2 separate regions of the Homo sapiens genome follow, and region 1 is linked to region 2. Evidence: fine-mapped expression QTL. A gene starts in region 2. The other region holds a variant in brackets. All regions are shown on one strand. Distances are between the middles of the regions. Region 1 overlaps RASAL2 (RAS protein activator like 2). Region 2 holds the start of RASAL2-AS1 (RASAL2 antisense RNA 1).

Region 1 (2,913 bases), 180 kb before region 2:
TCACAATAACAGACACTACACTGTGTTGCATTGGTGAGACTGTAACACTATTAATATTTACTGCCTTCCAGAGAAAGCTTTATAAAGGGATTCTACAGAGAGAATCTTCCCAGTTAATACAAACTCTAATGTTTCATTCAGTCTCAGGGGCCTTTCATCTATCTTAGTGCCAACCTAAAAAAAGAAATAACAACAGCATAGTTTTGGGAAATCTATCTGAATAGGGAAGGTCTTAATACACTAAAAGAGAAACATATTCCCAACAGATAATTGGTGTAAACTGCAGAAGTCTGAACTGTTGTGGAAGGATAGATCTGTATTTTCCTGTATCTATACATACATTTTCATTTCCACACCACAGCTAACCTGGCTTAGAAATGGCAAATTCTTCGCAACTCTGAAATTTCAATGACCAGATTTGTTTTGGCTTTGAACCCAAAGTCAAAAAGTATTACTTCATAAAAGCTAAGAATTAAAGTGATCACTTTATTACAGAAGCAAAAACATCTGGCCAGGAACGGTGGCTCACGCCTATAATCCCAGCACTTTGGGAGGCCAAGGTGGGTGGATCACTTGAACTCAGAAGTTTGAGGCTAGCCTGGTCAACACAGTGAGACCTCATCTCTACAAAAAATACAAAAATCAGCCAGGCATGGTGGTGCGTGCCTGTAGTCCCAGCTACTTGGGAAGCTGAGGTGGGAGGATTGCATTTTTTCTTTTCATCAACATGTTCACAACAGTTTTAACAGGCATTCATGTTTAATATCATATTAATAGGCCAATTAACAAGTTTTTGGTTTTTTTTTTTTTTTTTTTTTTTGAGAGGGAATCTCACTCTGTCGCCCAGGCTGGAGTGCAGTGGCGCGATCTCAGCTCACGGCAAGCTCTGCCTCGCAGGTTCACGCCATTCTCCTGCCTCAGCCTCCCGAGTAGCTGAGACTACAGGCGACCGCCACCACACCTGGCTAATTTTTTCTATTTTTAGTAGAGATGGGGTTTTACCGTGTTAGCCAGGATGATCTAAATCTCCTGACCTTGTGATCCGCCAGCCTCGGCCTCCCAAAGTGCTGGGATTACAGGCATGAGCCACTGTGCCCGGCCAACAAGCTATTTTTTAAAAGGCAGTTCTTTATTTTTTTAATAAACAATAAAATCCTTGCCCCTGACATGCAGATTTAAAAATATGGCATACACATGGCTATCTTCTATAGACAATTTCTGATATAATAGAAGAAATAATGTTAGAGTTGTTACGTGGAGATGATTCTTAACAATGTCAATAACTGTAACAGGCTGGGCACAGTGGCTCATGCCTGTAACCCCAGCAGTTTGGGAGGCTAAGGCAGGAGGATCACTTGAGCCCAGGAAGTCAAGGCTGCAGTGGGCCATGATCACACCACTGTACTCTGCCTGGGCAACAGAATAACACCTTGTCTCAAAAAAAAAAACAAAAAAATTGTAATGTGGTTGAGGAGTAGT[C/T]CACAATATACTGCAGATTTATGCTCAAATTATTTTATAAATGTATTAATGTTGTCTGCTTAAGACCTAGTGTAGTTCCCATCAACTAAGTCACTCTCTTTCATTCTTAAAGTACAAAAGGAAAGGAAAATCCAGTCAGGTCACTTAAAGTAAAGTTTAATTTTACTTATTTTATCCCTTCATTACCTTCCCACCCTCTATATTCTGTCAAAATGTCAGAAAATAACATTTCCAGAACAACAAACAAAAATTTTCTTAGACTGATAACCACCCAACACACAGTACCTGTGAACTTTGCTTTGTCCTGACACACAATGAACATTTGGGCTGGCAAATTATATTATAGTTCATACAAATAAATGGCCTCAGTGGATTTAAATATGGCCACCCTCGTACCTTGATGAGTAATATGGATACTAAGTAATCATTCAATATGTTTAAGATATAGTCATTAGGTCAGAAATGGTTGCCTTCATGGAAATACAAGTCTTAATCCTTACATTACCATAAATTTACTATGAGACCACAACTATTTGCCGAAATAAATTTATATTGTGTCTTTTAACCTTAGCTAACCACTTTAGTTTCCTTGTCAACTACAAAGGCTTAATTTCCGACCTACTTGATCACTGGTGTCTAGTTAGTAAATCCACTATGCTCATTATCACCCTTGTTAAGAGAAGGAGAGAGCAGGAAAGAGATAACATGTGATACTTCTCTCTGGTGAGTAATTTCCTTTAGTCTAACATTTGCAGAGTTCTGCTGCTGCTTCCCTCTCAGTCTCAGCTGCATCACAGTTCAGCATGAATGTTCTAACTCTGCTCTATCACAGGTCAGAGTGAGTTATCTGGTAAAAAAGTAATAAATTCCTTGAAGGCATGACTTATTTATGGCAGACAACTTGATATTTGATAAAGGTAACACTTCTCTATAGAAGAGCTCATTTTAGTTTGGTGCCATTACTTATTTTAAGAAGATGGTAAGGATGGGGAACAATTCCTATGATAGTTCTACCTTGCTTCTCCCTTCCACATCACTACAACAGTTTGCACTGTCCTGATCACATGTGCCGTGAAATGCAAACAAAGCAGATCATATAGTTTTCTTCCACTTCTTAAATATGCACTTGAAGAAATAAGTCCTGCTGGGATATCAGGGCATGCCTCTATAGTCCCAGCTACTTGGGAGCTGAGATCACTTGAGCTCAGAAGATCAAAGCTGTAGGGTGCATGACTGTGCTCTCAATAGCCACTGCATTCAAACCGGGGCAACACAGCACAACCCAGTCTCTTAAAAGAGGTAAGTCCCTTAATTTCCACATTAAGCCAAGTCTGCTTAAGCAACTATGTGGCCTAGTTAACTGAATGGAGTCTTATGAATGGTGCCAGCAGTAAGATGAGAAATGGCAGTCCATCACAGCCTGTTCTTCAATCC
Region 2 (2,913 bases):
GCCAAAAATGTGACTCGATCTGCCCCAAATCCCATAGCCATTTAGTGGTAGAACTGAGACAAGAACTGAGATCTCTGGACTCCTAGTTCTATGATCTTTGCGATGGACATTAAGTCTTCAAATCAACTGAACTACACAGAAAAAAACCTAAGTCTTGGTCACTCTTGAATAGTAAGCATATACCCTGTTCAGAAAGATGAAAGAAAAAAACATAAGGTACTTGATCACTACAGGCTTAGATGCACAAGACTGCAGGATAACATCTTAACATTGTGTTTGATCCCAGGTGCTTCAAATTTGCCATCTTATACTCAGCCACGTTACTAATGTCTTCTGCAGTCACGTGAGCTAGGCGATAAACATCTTGCCGTTTCAATATTTTGGAAAGCCACAGCTCAGTCCTGAATGCCAGGCTATAAATCCTTAAGCTATGAGTTTTCAAAACCAGCATGGTTTTAGTGCTGCCACAAGGCTCACCCTAATAGAATCTCATCATTCAGTTTTAATTAAAGAGGTGGTTACCAGGAATGCAGAAAGGGAAAGTTTTAGTGTGTTCATCACTTTTAACCTGCTGAGTGGCAACCCAGTCACTTTACAACGAGATTCAGAAACAATAGTGTAATCTGAAACAATCCACACCCGTTGGAATAAGTGGTTGCTTTTAGAGAGAGTGAGGTTCAGGCAGAGGTTATAGATTAGTCTTGCTCCCACCAAATACATAGTTTGCATTTTTTTCATTCATTAGCTTATCCTCTGCTTTTTCATAATATCTTGGTTTCCAGTCTTGCCTCATTCAACAATAAAAAGAGACGAAAATCCATTCACTTGGTTTCATGGAGTTTTTCCATCATACCTTCTTGAAGATTGATTGCCTGGCTGTTCCCTTGAAGTAATCGCCTAAGAATTACGTCTTGGATAGCCCAACTCCCGCATTAAACTTACTGCAGGTGTCTGAAGAGGTCCAAAGACCATACTGAGTGACATCCCTGCCCAAGTGATAGTCTGAAGAAACTTGTCAGAAATGCACCCCCAGAACAAAAAGGGATGTGGGAAACTGACCTAGCACGGATGAGGACTGGGAATGAGCCTGTGACTTAGGGAATGAATTTCAGCCCAAGCAAAAATAGGAAACACCAGCCTCTAAGACGGCCTGTGGTCCTTACCGTACACCCGGACCCAGCTCTGTTGCTGGCACACGGACTCCAGAAGGATCCGATCCAACATGCCACCGGCGACGGCTCCACTGACTGGGACAACCGCGTCCAGGTCCTCCGGGGGCAGCGGCGAGTCGGACTCCAGCGCCGGGAACATCTCCGGCCAGGACAGCGCCTCCGCGGCTCCTCCGGACGACGGAGAGAGCTCCATGGTGCCCCGAGGCGGGAGGGGGACGAGGCGGCGGCTTCGGGGCGGGCTGGCGCGCGGCTCCGCGCCCTGCCTGCGGTAAGGGGAGGAGGAGAGCGCGCAGCGAGGGCAGGGACCCGAGCGGCAGCCGGCGCGGACACCTCTCACCTCCTTCCCCGTCGCCCACTGCCCGAGGCTCGGGCGATGCAGCCCACCTGCAGTCGGCGGGCGGGACCCAGGCCGGGAGGAGGATCCAGCGTGGCCCCGACCAAGGGTGGGTCCGGGCTCAGGTGTGTGTGGGTCCCTCCCGGGAGAGGACGCAGAAGAACCCGGGAGGGGAGGCTCGCCCTCCCACCTCCTCGGAGCCGCCTTCTTCAGCCCCGCCGGCGTCTCTCGCGGTCAGACCAGGCTCTGGCTGGGGATGGAGCGGGGCCGGGCAGGGCTGGGCTTGGGGGCGTCGCCGCCAGGGGCCGCCCCCTCTGACCGGCTCCCGCCGCCGCCGCCTCAGAAGCTCCGAGTGCCCGTTCCCTCAGCCTGAGGAGGGGTAGGGGGCGGTGGCCCCGGGTTCTAGCCCGCCTGTCCTCGGCCCCCACTTCTGGAATGAGCCTGCCCGCCCCCTGACTCTCAGGCCACAGCTCCGGCCACAGCTCTGGCTCCTGCTCCGCGGCGGATCCCACAAACCCGGCAGCCACGGCGGTGGCGGTGGCGGTGGCGGTGGCGGTGGCGGCGGCGGCGGCGGCGGCAGCGGCAGGCGGCATCCCAGGGTGATAGGCTGAAGCAATCGAGGGCCGAGAGCCCGGCCGCGTGTGCACTCGAGTAACGAAGCCGGGGAGGGACTGCGCCGCAGGCAGGAAAAGTCGGACACCGAATTATTCATCCGGCCTGTCCCGCCTACTTTCCAAGTACCCTCCCAGGGATAGCCGGGTATTGAGCGGTCCGGGTCTCTGCTGCTCAAAGTAAAGACCGTTTGAGAAGGCGGGGAGGTAAAAGGGTGCGGGAAATTTAAACAGAAAAGAAAGGAGCTTCCCTTCCTTCTCACACCTTTCCTATTTATTTGTTTCTTTCTTTCTTTATGGGCCAACGTTTCTTTCTTATTGGACAAAGAGATCGAAGAAGCTGCTTTATCTTACAGTCACCCAAGGGGGAGCGCCTTCTTCCTTCCCAGAGTGGAGTGGCAGTGGGTCCGGGATTCTGGGATATGCACAGGGTCTGCGCCCTGCGCCCTGTCCGCGCTGAAGCTGAACTTGTCATTGGTTTGCAACAGCATGGTGAAGAAGTGTGGTGTGGATGGACGGACGGGCCTCTCAGGCACATGAAATACTCAAAGCCCAGTATTAACCAAACATGTTTCTCTGTTTTGTCTTTGATCTTTGTGCAGTGTGTTGGCTTTTTTCCTTTAATGATGTCACTTGTATTTTATTTTTGGTTTATTTGTAGACTGTCTCCCTCCTTGGCCATGGCTTTACTTTTATGTCCACCCAAGGAGAGTTTCACCAGTTTAGGTTTAAGAAATTACTGACAAGTTAACAATAATAATTTCAAAATTGAACAGTAATAACTTAAACCGTGCCT

What was found. PIP is the estimated chance that this variant, and not a neighbour inherited with it, causes the effect. A credible set is the group of variants that fine-mapping cannot tell apart.
Region 1: its variant is the best candidate, but not a certain one, in a credible set for the expression of RASAL2-AS1 in thyroid (GTEx, PIP 0.69).

What each region holds. Positions count from the first base shown.
Region 1 is chr1:178,275,055-178,277,967 of GRCh38, reverse strand. All of the region lies in intron 1 of RASAL2 (RAS protein activator like 2), which reads right to left. Among named protein-coding and RNA genes, the nearest start is that of RASAL2, 180 kb to the right of the region's middle. The variant C/T (reference allele first, on the strand shown) is at 1,480.
Region 2 is chr1:178,092,945-178,095,857 of GRCh38, reverse strand. It overlaps RASAL2-AS1 (RASAL2 antisense RNA 1), which reads left to right and starts at 1,865. Exons shown (of 2, transcript NR_027982.1): 1 at 1,865-2,297; 2 at 2,446-2,913. It overlaps RASAL2 (RAS protein activator like 2), which reads right to left and starts at 1,754. Exons shown (of 18, transcript NM_170692.4): 1 at 1,164-1,754. The coding sequence starts at 1,365. RefSeq lists silencers at 1,316-1,375, 1,526-1,685, 1,756-2,055, 2,106-2,155 and an enhancer at 1,777-2,278.